2 separate regions of the Homo sapiens genome follow, and region 1 is linked to region 2. A link means that fine-mapping ties the variant in region 2 to the expression of a gene that starts in the linked region. Tissue or cell type: esophagus muscle. Region 2 holds a variant in brackets; the other region holds the start of a gene. All regions are shown on one strand. Distances are between the middles of the regions.

Region 1 (8,094 bases), 740 kb after region 2:
CTTCTGCCTAGATCCCAGGAAAGGTCTAAGTTCAGAGGCCAGGGACTGGGGCTAGTTCAGAGGAATGACAATAGTGAAGACAGTGGCCTGGGCTGGGCACAGAAACCTGAGTCCTTTCCACTTAGTGCCTGGTCCCTTCATGCCCTGTGCATGCTCCACCTCCCAGCCCACTCTTGAGTAATTTTACCCCCACCTTGCACCTGTCTCAGCCATCAGAGGGATTCATGCTCTGACCTCCCTCCGCATTAGGACTGCCAGGACAGAGCAGCAGTTGGCCCCACTCCAAGTCACTCTAACCCCCTTGCCTTGGGAACCTGTGCAGACCAGCTCTGGGCAAAGCCCCCTACCACCTGGCCCCACCCCCCTGCTTTCCTTCCCTCCCTCTCAAGGGGTCTCCCCAATGGCTTCACTTAGTCTGGTCATGATGGTGGAGCTATAAGAGACATCAGCTGGGACTCCCTGAGATTGGTGTGTGCCCCAGCTTAGGTCAACAGAGTCGTGCCTACTAAGCTCCTCCTGCTCCCAAATCTGTCCCATTCAAAGAGAGCCAGGTGCATTACTGGGGACACCTGAGACAGAACTAACCAACCCTAGTCCTGGGCCAGGGCTGCTGACTGGCGGCTCTGGAGGTAAGAGGGAGGCCAGGGAGCCCTGGCCGAGAGTCAGTAGGCTCTGATTCAAGCCCCAACTCTGCCCTCTCTGGGCCTATTTCCCCATTGTACAGTGGGACAAGAGTCCTGCTGGTCTCTTGGGCCACATCCAGAGAGGCTCTGGAAGTAGGCAGGGTCTCTGCTCCAAGGGAGGGCTGAGGAGAGACCTGATGCCCACGGGGCCATCTCTGCAGGTGGCGCCTGGGTGGCATACGGAGCTACAACCCTGAGCAGATCATGCTGAGTGCTGCGGTGCGCCGGACCAGCCGGGACGTCAGCATCATGAAGGAGAAGCTTATTTTCTCAGGTACACAGCCCTGCAGACAGGTGGAGGCAGGCCCTGGGCCCAGCTTTCTGCACCCCCACATGCAAACAGATGTGTATGCACACACATTCACATGTGGCACATATGGGTAGGGACAAGGGCACAGACGTACATAAACCCACCGGGATTATACCCACAGACATACAAAGGCATAAGTACACGTGTGAAAACACACACCCCCACACACACAGTCATCCACCCTGTCATCCACCATGGCTTGGTGTCAGTGCCATGGTTGGTGGGCAGGGGTGGGGTAGGGAGAGGAGTCTGTTTTGAAGGCCCATCCCCCTTTGCCTGGTTCGTACTTGGATCCTACAATGTTGGCCTCACCCTTGCTCTTTGCCAGTCCCTGTCAACATTCCCAGTCTGATGGAAGCAGCAGCTACGTATATAAACAGTGGCAGGGAAAGTCGAGTTCCTGCGATGGGAGTGCCGGGCGGGGGGCGGGAGGACGTGGTCAGAGCTGCCTGGGCAGTGAGGAAGGCTTTGGGCGCCTGATACACTGAGATGGGGAGGATGCAGAGGAGGTGCTTTGGTAATGGCTTCAAGATGAGGGCCGAGTGAGCTGAGGGAAGGAAGGGCATTCCAGGTGGGCACGGCATGTGTGCAGAGGTGGCAAGGGAGCACCGCTTGCCTGGGCACCAAGAATGAAGTGTCCCTCTATATGGCCGAACTCCACTCAGCAGAGCTTTCTTGAGCCTCTGCTCTGTGTCCAGCACTCTACCAGGCCCTGGGGACATAGATGCCCAGAACCCACCCTGGTCCTTGAGGTATTTTGGGGGCCCAGGCAGCAACCATACAGAATATGGCCAGGGCAGAAGGAAGCAGGGTCTGGAGTTGCCATGAGGAGGCCCTAACTCGGCCCAGGGCTCCGATGAGGTTCCCAGGAGGCTGAGTGACAGATGAGAAGACTTGAGCCAGACTGTAGGAAAAGGAGGTGTTGTTGGGGCAGTCACTCCTAAGAGAGGGGCTGACACATGCAAAGGCCCTGAGGAGAGTGGACACATGGGTGCCAAGCTCAGGGGCACAGGTGGTTTTCTGTGGCTGCAGAGTCCCAGGGGACAGCAGATGAAGGCGAAGCTAGAGTGCTCAGCAGACACCAAAGGGGCCTTGAGTGCCAGGCTCAATGTCGACCTGAGCCCAGTGGTTTCATCAGCCTCCAAGTGCCCCGCTGGGTGGTGCAGCCTTCCTGCCCCATCTGTCACCCATCCTCACGACTGCCTCCTCCCCGACTCACATTCTGTCTCCCTCTGGCCCAGCAGAGATCAGCGATGGTGTAGAGGTCTCCGATGTGCTCTCCGTATGTTCAGACAACAGTTATGACACATATGCCAACAGCACCGCCACCCCTGTGGGCCCCCGAGGGGGTGGCAGCCACACCAAGACCCTCATAGAGCGGAGTGGGCGTTAGCTGAAGACATGTCTGTCCCACCTGTACCTGACACAGAAGCTGGGGAGCCTAGGAGAGCTGGTGGAAGTGTGTCTGAACTCGGAGTGCTCTGGGAGCGGGCTCCACAGCCTCCTTGTGGGCTCCAGCCCCTTGTCAGCCGCAGCCTCTCTTGAGGGGGACTCCCTGTCTCCTGAGGCCCAGCTGGGCCAGGACTCCATCCTTTCAGATGCCCCTGCAGGCCTGGGGCTCCTTCTGGGAAGTATGGGGCCTAGGGCTTGGTCCCCCTCTTCTGAGGCCCTCTCCTGTATCCCGACCTGGAAGCTTTGATGGGTCATGGGCCATGCCATACCCCCTGTGGCAATGGAGTGTGTGGATGCTCACCTGTGCCATCTGTCCTCCTGTCTGTGCCAGGAGGCACCTGAGTTCTCTGCTGTTATCCTGCCCCAAGGGCCTGGGCCGAGCCTCTACCTGAAGCAACTCTGCTCTTCCTGTCAGTCTCAAAGCACAAGGAGGTTCAGCCCAGGAGGAAGCCAGCTGCAATGTGGAGACACGTCCTCCTCCCCAACCCACCTCATGCCACCGCCAACCCCCTGCCCCAGGAGCGGGCCTGAGCCACGTCCTCTAGGAGCAGCTGGAGATGGCCAAAAGAGTGAGCTCAGGACTACTGGATCCCATGCCCAGGTGTCCAGCAGACCTCAAGGCAGAAGGGTCACCTAACCCAGGAGTCCACAGACTGATGTGACCTCAGGTTCCCACATCAGTGGCCACAGGGCAGGGCCCACCTGGTAGAAGTGTTCTGGATATGGCCAGGGTGGGTGTGTGGCTAAGTGGGCCTGAACAGAGGGAACCTAGGGCCCTTGGCCAATGTGATTAAAGCTGCCATCTTGATGTGTGTTGTCTCTGAATTGCCAGCAGGAGGGTGGGGACAAGTGCGCTGGGTCTAGGTTTCAGTTCTGACCCTATAATCTGAGGAGGAACCATTCTCAGGAATGAATGGGAAAGTGGCAGAATGGTGCCTCCCCTTCCCTGGGTCCGCCATGGTGCCAGTGGCTGGGAGCCGGTATCCTCATATGGTGGATGGGGAGACAGTCTTGGAGAGGTAAAGTGACCTCCAAAAGCCACACAGCTTAGAACAGGCCAAGCCAGAATCCCATCCAGACTCTGGCCCCAGCGCATATGTGTGCCTCCCATAAGCTAGGAATGACACGCAGAGGGGGAGGGCTCCTGGGTCCAATGTAGGGCTGGGAGTGGGACTGGCAGGTGCCCTCACAGCCACATGAAGGCATTCTGAACCTCCCGGCTATGTTGGGACAAGCCCTCAGCACAGGGAGGCCTCTTCCCCATGCCAGGAGTTTGGCTTTGACTTCTCCGAGCTTTGGACCTGCCTGAGGAGGGCCCATGCCCATGCCCAGGACTGGGGGCACCTGAGCTGAAAGCCAAAGTACAGCCCTGGGACCACAGGTGTCCTTTCCTTCCAGTCCTTGGGACCTCTGCTGTCTGTGGGCAGGAGTCAGTGGTGGTGTCAGAGCAGGCCTGTAACTCCCCTCTTTGTCCTGAGAGTCTGCCTGGTCATGGGTGTGACCTGAGGGAAAAGGGGGAAGCTGAGCCCCAGCTCCAGCCTGCATCAAATTAACTCCATGCTTCCTGGGAGCCAAGGGACGTGTCTCTTCCAAACAGGGATCTTCTGGATAGAATTCTTGGGGTCTAGGAGATTCTGGCACCTTATAGGTAAAAAAGAAAAGAGCCCTCTGCAAATGTTGGAAGCTCCACTGGGCCCCCACAGTAACCTCGAGGACCGGCCCTCCTGCCCCTGCTACTGAATGTCTGGCAAGTGCTCTGCTTCCTGGGGCAGAGGTCAGCTCCCGCCTCTCCCTGAGCTCAAGGGAATGAGACTCAGAGCCACTGTGCCCCCCGCCCCACATGCTTAGTCACATTGGCATCTACATGGTCACACAGCCACATGTCCACACGCAGCCCAATGCTACACAGTCACTTCATTCCATGTACTTCCACAATCACGCATAGTCACCCTGAAACCTACATGCCTACAACTGCATGATGACACCCCTCCCACACCCCAACTCCAGCACCACACACCTTCGAACCCATCGTCATTCCGGGACAAGGCCAGCACCAGGTCACCCCCAAACCCAGGCATACCAAATCCTGGAGTTCCACACACAGTCAATCCCACTCTTATGCCCCCCCTTTCTTTCCCTCCCTCCCAGGGCTAGTCCAAGAGTGGAACAAAAGCCCAGCATCCCCCTCCCTGCTCGCTTCTCCCTTCCCCTCCCTTCCCCTCCCTCCTGGCGTCCAGCCCCTTTGTCCTCCCGCAGCTGAGCCCGAGCGAACAGCAAACGGGAGTCTGGGCAGAGCAGCATGAACACTGGAGCTTGGGCTGCCAGGGGTGCGGGCGGCAGGCACAAACGGGAGTGATACCTGTGAGAGCAGCAGCTGCGGAGCACTTGGGAGAGGGTATGGCCAGGTAAGTGCCAGGTGCATGGGGCAAGGCTTAGGCTGCAGGGCTGACCCGGCTGCGTGGTGTCCGCAAGTCTGAGATGGGGAGGATGCGGAGGAGGTGCTTGGGTAATGGCTTCAAGTGGATGTGGGTGTGTAAAAGAGTGATGGTGGCATGTTCGAGTCAGCTTCTATAGGCTGGGCCCTTCAATCTGCATCATGACCCCTGGCTTGAAGTGCCTAGACTCAGCCGAGAAGGGAGGATACCCATTGAGCCCTACCTGGGAATTTTTACCTTCTGTGTTCCAACTGGGTGTCGTTTGACCCCCAGACTGGGGATCCCCAGAGTGAATGCTGGATCTGATGTCACTGTGTGTCCAGAGTGCCCAGCGCAGTAGACAGTAAAATGAAAAAGTACTGACACACTTCCTAGGAGGGGACTCTTTCTCCCCCAGGGAGCTGCTTGTGCTGTGGGGCACCTTTGCAAGAAGTCCATCCTTATGCTGATGAGACCTGCCCTCTTGAGTCTCAACTCAGAGCATGGTTGTGCTTTCTGAGCCAGTGGAGGACAGACTGGTTGCAGCGTGCTGTGATGACCGGTCTCACTTCCTTCCACCGGTCCTGGCTGCTCCTTGGGACACACCCCCACCCTGGCAAGTGTGGCATGCAAACCCTGGAGCCAGGTGGATTCAGGATCCAGTCGCTCTACTTGGGCAAAAGTAGTTAACTTTCTTGCCCACCAGGGAGCTCATCTCTCATGATGCTGACCAGGGGATCCGCTGCCCTGGATGACCAGGGCATGAAAGCCAGGCTGACACTAGGCGGGATCTGACCTCCAGAGGCAGCAGAGCAGCTGGGAGCAGGAGGATGGAAGGAGAGGCAGGGCGCAGAGGGTGGACCTGAGCCCCCTAGAGTAAGCTGATGGAAAGGAGGGAGCTCCCTGTCCCTGGAGGTGTGCAAGCAGAGGTTTTGTGTTCATAATGGCCAAATCATAACCAGCATGGCCCAGCCCCTCAGTCTGCAGAGCGCCTTCACAAACACCCCTCTGCTGAGCCTCGCCGCAAACTTCTGAAGGGCGGGTGTCCTGTGTGTGCTTGTTTCCCTTATGACAAACTAAAGGGGCAGGTGTGGGCTAAAGAAACTTCTCAGCTTGTGAGGATGAAATTAAATTATGTCTATAAAAGCAACTGGCACACACAGTGTCCTCCCTTCCTCTTGAGTAAAAGCAATATAGGGAAACACCCATGTAGCTCGTACTGTGTACTAGCACTTTTCATACAGCCCATGTAATAGTCATGAAGCCACAGCCCTGTGAGGTAGGGATGATGATCCCATTTCAGATGAGATAACTGAGGCCAGGGCGGGCAGGTGAGAGGAGTGACTTGCCCCGGCCACACCGTAAGCCTGTGGCAGGCACTGGGTTAGAATCCCCATTTGTCCCTAGAGTTCTTTCCACTTTCTGACGGTGCTACCTGGAGAACACCAAGAGAACTCACTAGAGAGAGGGCCAGCTTCCCTCAGCCTGGGCTCTAACCTTTCAGAATTCGCCCATCCTTCTCAGCTGGAAGGTTCCCCTCAGGGACGCCCTCCCTGACTCCCCTCCACCTGGGTCCAGCGGCCCTTCTATGAACTCCCCTAACACCCGGTGCCTCCCCATGGCACCCCCGCCAGGCTGGGAGCTCCGGGCACACCGTAACTATGGTTGTCTTGCTCACTGCCTGGCACAGAAAGGGCTCCCAATAAATACTTGTCGAATTCGTTTGCGCGAAAGCTGTGTGTATGATGCTGTCTGTCAGGGGAGTGCTCAGGGTGTGGTCAGTGTCCAGCACCTACCGGAGATCGGCAGGAGACAGGCTGGATTGAGCAGAGGGCGGTGGAGTTATTGTACCCTCTCTCCCCTGCACATGCACACACTGGGTCTCTGTGGGGCAGCCTGAGTCCCTTGACCCAGGGCTTCAGCTCCTGTCACGGGACCCTCCTTACACAGATATATTTCCAGGTTCCAGTAACTTCCCTGCTCTCCCGCTACAGACCCCGGGGCGGCCAAGGCGCCCTGCTGTTAGTATCCTGGGACACAGCCCTACTCCTACTGGAGTCCCTAACGCCTACTCCGCTGTTGAAAATAGTTCCTTTATTAGACCCTCCTCCGATTACCCTGTTTGAGAGCGTGCCATCTGTTACCTGCAGATATCGATAGGAAAACGCTTAGCAAGTTTGAAGAACCGAAAAGGGCACTGTGTCTGAGTGGGTAGGCAGGGCAGAATGTCGCGCTGGTGAGGCGGGGCTGGGGCACTGTAGCCGTAAGGAACCTGGATGCTGAACGGAGGGGAGAGTCGCTGAACAAATGGTCAAGAGAGGAAATAAACGGATGAGGGCTGTCGCCTCTCCCGGGCGCAGCCAGGTGGCTTCCCCGACGCTGTTTGTGTTCTCTCCCCGGCAGGATGCGGCAAGGCCATGCGCCGGAGGAGTCGGAGCCGGGCTGCGAAGCGCCGTGCGCGGGTCCGTGCCACGCGCAGCGCGTGCTGCAGGCCCTGAACGCCTACCGGCGGAGCGGCACCCTCACCGACGTGGTGCTGCGCGCCGGCGGGCGCGACTTTCCGTGCCACCGCGCGGCGCTCAGCGCGGGCAGCGCCTACTTCCGCAGCTTGTTCGCGGCCGGGCGGCCCGAGCGCGGCCCGGCCGTGGTGCCAGTGGTGCCAGTAGCTCCCGAGGCGCCAGGCACGAGCCCGGCCGGGGCGGCGGCGGCGCTGGCCGTGGTGCTCGACTACGTGTACGGAGCGGGCGTGCGGCTGCGCGCGGAGGACGAGGCGGCGGCCGTGCTGGCGCTGGCGGAGCGGCTGGGCGTGGCGGGCCTGCGCGAGGCCTGCGTGCGCTTTCTCGAGGGCCGCCTGCGCGCCGCCAACAGCCTAGCGCTGCGCCGCGTGGCCGCCGCCTTCTCGCTGGCCCCGCTGGCCGAGCGCTGCGGCCGCGTCCTGCGTCAGGCCTTCGCCGAGGTGGCGCGCCACGCCGACTTCCTGGAGCTGGCGCCTGACGAGGTGGTGGCGCTGCTGGCGGACCCCGCGCTGGGCGTGGCGCGCGAGGAGGCCGTGTTTGAAGCGGCCATGCGCTGGGTGCGCCACGACGCGCCGGCCCGCCGCGGCCAGCTGCGACGCCTGCTGGAGCACGTGCGCCTGCCGCTACTGGCGCCCGCTTACTTCCTGGAGAAGGTGGAGGCGGACGAGCTGCTGCAGGCCTGCGGCGAGTGCCGCCCGCTGCTGCTCGAGGCTCGCGCC
Region 2 (8,094 bases):
ACAGGGTAGAGAGTACTGGTCGGAAGGATTCTAGTCTATTTCAGTGGTCCAGGAAGACCTCGCAATGCAGATGGCGGCTCTTGTAAACCCCAGAGCCATGGGGGCCGGAGATGATGTCAGTGAGGGACGAGGGTCAGACTGAGGGAGCGTGGGAGCCACTGCAGGTTTGGAGCAGGGGTGCAACCTGTTTTGTGCCAGGCTCTGCGCTAGGGGCTTGACGGCCAACTTCTCACTTGATCCTTCTGGCAAGTCTGTGATTTGGGGCTGGCTTTCAGACCCCGATTTCAGAGGCAGAAGAGGCCCAGAGAAGGAAGGAGCCTGCTGGAGGTCATGAAGCAGCTCGGCCCTTTCCCTCTCTCCCGATCTGTGACAGGTTGGCAGCTGGCAAGGCTTATTTTCCTCAGCCTCTTCTCTCAGCATCTGCCCATAAATCACTCTGACACACAACGAGGGGGGCACGGACGGATTCCACATCACCTCCGTGGGTGAGCGGTTCCCAGGCCCTGCACTCCGGTGAGCCTGTGGTTCTTGGCTCTGGATGCTGGCTGCCCAGCCCAGGGCTCCAAATGCCGGGCTCAGACACCAGGGGAGTCGTGCTTTCCCTGGGCCAAGAAGGGGTTCAGGAGAAAGGGGAGGACCCCCCACCCCCGCCGCCACCCAGGCCAGAGGATCTGGCTACCAGATGAAGGGTTGGGAGAACACAAATCGGCTGCTCAAAGATCTGGGCGAGACCTGGGTCTGACCACGGGTGGGTACAGAGGGCATGCTGTGGCCAGAGGCTCCAGGGGAGAGAGGAGGCCCTCCCTTACTCTGAAGGCTCTGGTGATGCCAGAAGCATCTGGGATTGTTTTGGAGCTGGCACGGGAGCAGAGGCAGGCACAAGACAGGGGTGCTTGAGAGGGAAGATCCCCTTCAACCCCGACTGCCTCCCACCCAACCACCCCGACCGGTAGGGCGCCAGCACAGGCACCACCAAATGCTTTCACCGGGAAGCGGGCTGGGGGCCTTTTGGCCTCGTGACTTCGCAGGGCCCCCTGGAGAAATGGCTGTTCTCTGGACAAACCTCAGGGATTTGGGGAGCACCTGTCCTGTGTGGGGCTCTGAGCGGTGTGGGGCAGCGTCACGACATGGCACCCTGGCCTCGAGGAGCTGCTGGTCTGGAGTGCAACCCACTTCTCACCCTGGCATTCGAGGTCTGGCCCCTCTCCTCCTCTTCCTCTTCCTCCTCCCACTGCCACCCCCCACGCCTTGTTTTCCACACCTGCCTTGGGCATGGAAGCCACTCCCTTCGCTTAGGCCGACTCCTCTTCAGAATGGATTGAATCCCCTGTCCTGGCTTGTCTGTGGGCACCCACCCACATCATACCTCATTTCCAGGTCATGCCACACCATGGGAGGCAGTGCAGGATGGGGATTGGGGGTAGGGAGGAATCATGGCTTTGGGGTCAGAGGGGCCTACTGACCATCTGGCCCTGCCACCTACCAGATGACTTCCTGGGTATGTCTCTGTCTCGAAGCTTCTCTGAGTCAAGACTGAGACGGGGATACTGGTTGCCACATCTTGTGCCTCCATTTAGGGTGATTATATGAGAATGCCTGTGAGGGTTCAGCACAGGACCTGGCACCACTGGCGGTCAGCGCAGTGTCAGTGGGTCCAGCCCAAGTGTGCAGGCCCTGACAACCACCCCCTGCAGAACCTCCCGCCTGCCATCCCCACTGCCAGGGTGGGACGCCTGAGGAGGGGCCCTCCCTGGGCACTGGGAGGAGTCGGGGTAGCCCACACACCTCTTTTCTGTTCAAGACCAGGGTGGATGGCAGCTCAGAGCCAGGGCTGCTCAGGGGAGGGGTGAGGCGGTACCGGGATGAGGGATGCCAGGCGGCTGGTCAGGACTCAGGAAGCTGAGGCCAAGAGCTCCCTGCTCCATCGGGCCCTTCCAGGGCTCTAGCATTCAGGGACGGTGGGATGATGTCTGCCCACCTCTTATAACCCACCTCAGTCCTTTCCCTCCCAGAGCTGAGGACAATGAGACCGACCCCCAACATTCACCTGTTCCCCACGCCCTCTCCTGTCCTGACTGGGTCCCTCAGCTTTTTTCTGTAGCTTGTTTCTTCACACCCCCTGGCCTCTCAGCAAGGGGCATGGCAGGTTGCAACCCGGGTACCCCTCACCTGCAGAGCTGCCCTGTGGCCTCTCTGGGGCTGCAGAGAGGGCTGGCCCAAGCCAGCCTCACTGTGTGGATTTGGACAAAGTGCAGCCCCTCTCTGGGCCTCATTTTCCCTTTGGCCAGTAGAAGGGCCGGCCTCACAGGGCTGTGGAGTCCATCCACGGTGACTGAGGCTGGAGCGGGATGAAGCCCTCAGCCACTCCTTGCTCAGTCAGAGCTATTGGTGCACTGGGAGTGCTGGCAGTGAGCAGAGGGGCCTTGGGGGACCAGTGAGGATGGGGCTGGCAAGTGGCCAGCCTCACCACAGGCCACAGGGCCCCCCCTGAATGGACCCCCCGGAGGCTGCTTGTCAAGGCCTCTTGCCTAATTACCAAATCGTTCCCAGATCCCCTCCTGCAGCCTGACCTCCTCCCAGCTGGAAAACACCAAGCCCTGCCCTGAGGTGTGGATGCTAGTTTGCAGGGCAGCAGGGTCCTGCCCAGAGCCTCTCTCACTCCCATATTCTTGGGAGGCCAAAGAGCACTCCAGCCCCACCTGCCACCCAGGCCCAGCAGAATCCTCCCCTGAGTCCTGTGTGGGGCAACTGCTGGCTGAGGAGTCAGCCCTGGCCGGGTGCGGTGGCTCACGCCTGTAATCCCAGCACTTTGGGAGGCCGAGGTGGGCAGATCACGAGGTCAGGAGATCGAGACCATCCTGGCTAACACGGTGAAACCCTGTCTCTACTAAAAAAATACAAAAAATTAGCCGGGTGTGTTGACGGGCGCCTGTAGTCCCAGCTACTCGGGAGGCTGAGGCAGGAGAATGGTGTGAACCCGGGAGGCAGAGCTTGCAGTGAGCCGAGATGGCGCCACTGCACTCCAGCCTGGGCGACAGAGCAAGACTCCATCTCAAAAATAAAATAAAATAAAATAAAAAGTAAAATAATGTAAAGTAAAATAAAGTAAAATAAAAAGTCAGCCCTGAGGGAGTGACCTTGGCTAGGTCCCCCTGGTTTCTTCCTCTGTGGAAGGGGGAATTCATCCTTGACCTCACAGGGCCATTGAGATCGCTTGGGCCGACTCTGGGGGCCGACTCTGGGGGAGCCAGTGACCCCTCTCCCTGCACCTCCAACCAGACTCTGGGAGGTGGAGCAAGGCCTCACCCCCTCCACCCAACCTTGACACCAGGCTCTCTTTGCTCTCAGAAAATGCCCTGCATGGCTGCATCCTCCTGAGACACTCGTTGCCTGAGGCAGACTCACTCGCTGCCTCGGTGTCTGGCACGGGCGGAGGTTGGGGCGGAGAAGGCACATTCACGCCCCCACAGCCCCAGGGCCCTGAGCTGCAGCGGAGGCTCTGCTCAGAAGGGCACTACTCAGGGCCCGTGAGGGGCTGGGCGCGATGGGCCAGGGACTTCCCAGGGTCCCACTGTGAGTCAGCAGACCCAGCACCTTCCCCTGACCCCACTGGGTGCTGCCCTCACTTCCCAATGCACTCTCAGACACGTATGTGCACAACACGCACACACACGAACACTCATGCCTGCACACAAGCAGGATCCAGCAGGGTGACGGGAGCCCACATCTGCCCACCAGGTGCTCCCCAGCTGTGAATCAATGCTTGGAAGGAGCTGCTGGTGCGGCACCCCCACAACCTTGGGGAGATGAGGGCAGTCAAAGGTCACCTGAGATTCCCACAGCCCTTGATGATGCCCACACTGCGAACTGGGAGCTTGTCAGCCTCTCAGCTGCCCTCTCTCATTTCCAGATGGAGAAATAGGACTCGGAGATGGGCAGAGACTTCGTGGGGGCCACACATCAGTGGCAGGTGGGGTTGAACTTCCTGCTCTGCCCTTGTGGCCTGAGCTGGGAACCTCCCCCCTCTCCAGCCCAGCCCCAGAGGTCCACCTCACCCCATTCCTCCCTTGTTGCCTGCCTGGAAGGAAGAGGACCCAGGGGCCCTCTGTGGTGGCCTCCAGACTCTGATTGGCCTGGGAGGCACACAGCTCTTGGCTCTGTGGGAGAAAAGGTGTTCCTCCAGTCACAGCAGTCCCACAAGGGCAGGCGCTGACCCAAGTGGGAAGAAGTGCGCTTCCGATCCCTGGGAGTGTCCAAGCAAGGGCTGGAGGCTACTGCTGAGTGGGGTGGGTGGTTTCAGTGACCAGCAAGAGTCCTTCCAGGCACAGAGTTTCCAAGATTCTGAGTGTTAGTGATCTCCTGAGTTTGGATTAAATGCCACTCCCTCCCCAGACTCCTTCTAGCCCTGACTCCAGGATTTTTTGAGCCTCTTGGCCAAGCCCTGCAGCAAGTGAACATACAGATCAGAACCTCAATCCCTGCTCACCAACAGCAGGCAGTGACTTTGCATCTCCAAGCCTCAGTGGCTCCCTCTGTAAAATGGGGACCATCACAGTGGCACCTGCTTCACAAGTAATGGTGGGGATAAAGTGAGGGGCCACACGTGAAAGCCATGTGTGAACTAGATCAGGAACTCATAAACTTGACTCTGGCCTGGACGGCTCTACAGGACGAGACGGTGGGGGCAGAGACAATGTGGCTGGGGGAGATAAAGGCACTGAGTGGACATAAGGGCTGCGTGTGGGCAAATGAGCCATGGGAGCCAGGGCTGGGGGCTTGAATGCCGGGCAGAAGCCCCAGGACCTGCGTGAGTGGACACGTGTTTCCCAACGGGATGCCAGGAGGGCACATCCATCACTGCTGGGGCCCTGCCAGCCCAGGCTCCAGCTACTGGAAGTGGCGGAAGATCAAAGGGCCTTGAGGGTGGCCAGGGGCGGTGGCTCACGCCTGTAATCCCAGCACTTTGGGAGGCCGAGGCGGGCGGATCA[C/T]GAGGTCAGGAGTTTGAGACCAGCCTGGCCAACATGGTGAAACCCCGTCTCTACTAAAAATACAAAAATTAGCTGGGCGTGGTAGCGGGTGCCTGTAATCCCAGCTACTGGGGAGGCTGAGGCAGGAGAATCACTTGAACCTAGGAGGCGGAGGCTGCAGTGAGCCAAAAATCATGCCATTGCACTCCAGCCTGGTCTCTCCATCTGTAAAATGGGCGGGCTGGACCCACTGCTCTTCAAGGGGGCCTTACAGCCCTGGGGTGGGAGGGGAGGGCAGGGCAAGGGTTCCAGAAGGGAGGCCTTCAGCTCAGGTTTAACAAGCTGTCTGTTTGGTTGGAACTGATCAAAACCAGACTGGTGCTGAGCCGTGTCTCTGCTTCGCATGGAGTGAAGCTGCCAAGAATTCATCCCTCACTGTTTCCAGTAAATAACTGGGCTCCCACGGGGATCCCAGGGCGGGCTGGACGTCTCACCTCCTCTCTTCACAGTGAACTTGACCGGGGGGCCGGAAGGAAGGAGACCCCCGGCCAGGCCTCCAGCTGTGCTCTCACCGCATCAGCCCGTGGCAGATGGGCGTTGGCTCAGTGGGCCGCCCACCTGTCCCGTGGTCACAGTGGTGAGGGCTGCCAGCTGGACCCCACAGGGCCCACATGCCTGGGAGTCTGGCCCTGTTATCTCCTTCATTCATGCAGTCAACAAACCTTCGAAGAACTGTAATGGAGGCAGCCGCCCTCCTCAGGCTCCTCGACGCCTCTCAGGGGTCCTGGAGTGTCAGCACCTCTTCCTTAATTGTTCTTCCTGTTCATAAAAGAGAAGAGGCAGCACTTTGGGAGGCCGAGGCGGGCAGATCACCTGAGTTCGGGAGTTTGAGACCAGCCTGACCAACATGGAGAAACCCTGTCTCTACTAAAAATACAAAATTAGCCGGGCGTGGCAGCACTTGCCTGTAATCCCAGCTACTCGGGAGGCTGAGGCAGGAGTATCTCTTGAACGTGGGAGGTGGAGGTTGCAGTGAGCGAGATTGCACCATTCCACTACAGCCTGGGCAACAAAAGCAAAACTCCGTCTCAAAAAAAAGAAAGAAAAAGAAAGAAAGGAGGAAGCGCAGAACCAGGTTTTGACTAGTGAGGCTGTGTTAGCAGCGCGGTGACATCTTCCTTCAGTTCCATGGGTTGCCCGTGACTCTGTGTATGCTGACCCTATGGGAGGTGCCCGCAAAGCCAAGGGGCTGTGCCTAGCAGAGGTGAGGGCTGGGCTGAAAGACCCCTGCACGGCATGCACATACACACAACTTTGTCAGGACCTGCCTAAAACAAAAAATAGAGAGATTTCGACTCAATAGGGTGGGCTGGGTCTGGGAGTCTGCATTTTAGCAAGGGTTCCAGGTCAGGTAAGGTGGCTCACACCTGTAATCCCACGAGATAGGAGGATTGTTTGAGCCCTGGAGTTCCAGGCCAGCCTGGGCAATAGAGTGAGACCCAGATCCTATCTCTATAAAACATAAATTTAAAAAACACAAGGGTTCCAGGTGATTCTCCCTCCCTGCCTGTTGGGGAACTGAGATGATCCACCTGATCTTGGTAGGATGCTCGCCCTGGTCTCTAGGGTTACAACCTTGGAGTTCTCTGGGCCTCTGAGTCACCCTTTTTGCTTCAAAACAAAACCCCTAAAAGCCACAGAAAATGTCAAGATGTGGTTGGCAATAGGCATGCATCAGCTGCCCTCTCACGCTAAGGACTGAGGGACTGGGTTCCATCCCCCAGAGGAGAGCTTGCATTTGAAAGGGCACTGACCAGCGCGAGGAGCCTAACTGGCTGAGCTGTCGGAAGACAGGGCTGGCCTCCTGCAGGTACCCTCCTGCGTGAGTGTAAGGGACACTAGCAGCCCTTGTGTGCTGCAGGTCTGGGGGCTCTATCCTGCTGCCAATCTGCCTGCAGTGATTCTCTATAGGTGGGGAGGCCAGGATGTTCCCCCCAACACGGGGGCACAGCCAAGTCCCCTTGCTCTCATTCACATTTTGTCACAGGATTGAATTCGCTTTGATTTTCAAATATTAAGAGAATATTAAAAGATGGCATGAGGCCAGGAGTGGTGCCCACGCCTGCAATCCCAGCACTTTCAGAGGCTGAGGCAGGTGGATTGCCTGAGCTCAGGACTTAGAGACCAGCCTGGGCAACATGGAGAAACCCTATCTCTACTAAAAATATAAAAATTACCCGGGCATGGTGGCACCTGCCTGTGTTCCCAGCTACTCAGGAGGCTGAGGCACAAGAATCGCTTGAATTCAAGAGGCAGAGGTTGCAGTGAGCCAAGACGGTGCCACTGCACTCCAGCCCTACTCCATCTCAAAATAAAATAAAATAATAAAATAAAATGAGGCATGAAATTTGTATGGCCACCGAAAGGGAGCATGGATTTTTAGAGTTGTGGAAGCCTTGTGAGGGTAGTGGCTGCCAGCCTCCCCTGCCCGCCAGTCCTCATTCTGGGCTGCACACTTGAGTTTGGAGTTCGGGTTCTGAGATACTGGTTTTGCTTCTGAGCTCTAGTGGGCTCAAACCAAGGATGAAGAGGTCCCAGACAGCCCTCGGGGACCCTGACAACATTCTCTGAATACATGGATGAACAAGAGCAGCAGAAGGATGAAGAGAGAGGGCGGGCAAGCGTGGAGGGAGAACCCATCTCCACTCCCCGGGCCTGTCTTTGGCAGCAGCTCCACTTCCCACGACCCTATGCATGTGTCCTCCGTGTGCGTGTGTCCCCACTGTGCGTGCATCCCCCCGTGCGTGTGTCCTCCCTGTGCGTGCGTCCTCCCAAGCATGTCTCTCCCCATGCGTACGTCCCCCCGTGCATGCATCCCCCCCGTGCACATGTCCTCCTTGTGCGTGCGTCCCCCTTGTGCATGTGTCCCACCTTGCATGCGTCCTCCCTGTGCCTGCATCTCCCCTGTGTGTATGTCCCCGCTGTGCCTACGTCCCCCCCGTGCCTATGTCCCCCCCGTGCCTGTGTCCCCCCCGTGCCTATGTCTCCCCATGCGTGCGGCCCCCCGTGCGTGAGTCAACCCTGTGCATTTGTCACCCCTGTGCGCATGTCCCTTCCGTGCGTGTGT

Which allele goes with the higher level. Alleles are on the strand shown, and positions count from the first base shown. SD is a standard deviation of normalised expression in the study named.
In carriers of allele C in region 2, the expression in esophagus muscle of the gene that starts at base 4,690 in region 1 tends to be lower than with T alone (moderate effect, 0.64 SD a copy in GTEx).

What was found. PIP is the estimated chance that this variant, and not a neighbour inherited with it, causes the effect.
Region 1: it holds the start of KLHL35, and the variant in region 2 is fine-mapped to the expression of KLHL35 in esophagus muscle (GTEx, PIP above 0.99).

The regions. Positions count from the first base shown.
Region 1 is chr11:75,429,799-75,437,892 of GRCh38, reverse strand. It overlaps KLHL35 (kelch like family member 35), which reads left to right and starts at 4,690. Exons shown (of 7, transcript NM_001039548.3): 1 at 4,690-4,850; 2 at 7,263-8,094. The coding sequence starts at 7,264. It overlaps GDPD5 (glycerophosphodiester phosphodiesterase domain containing 5), which reads left to right. Exons shown (of 17, transcript NM_030792.8): 16 at 845-957; 17 at 2,238-3,253. The coding sequence ends at 2,386. RefSeq lists an enhancer at 5,166-6,052 and silencers at 7,341-7,580, 7,661-7,710.
Region 2 is chr11:76,165,156-76,173,249 of GRCh38, reverse strand. No RefSeq gene overlaps it. Among named protein-coding and RNA genes, the nearest start is that of WNT11, 37 kb to the left of the region's middle. RefSeq lists an enhancer at 7,782-8,094. The variant C/T (reference allele first, on the strand shown) is at 4,989.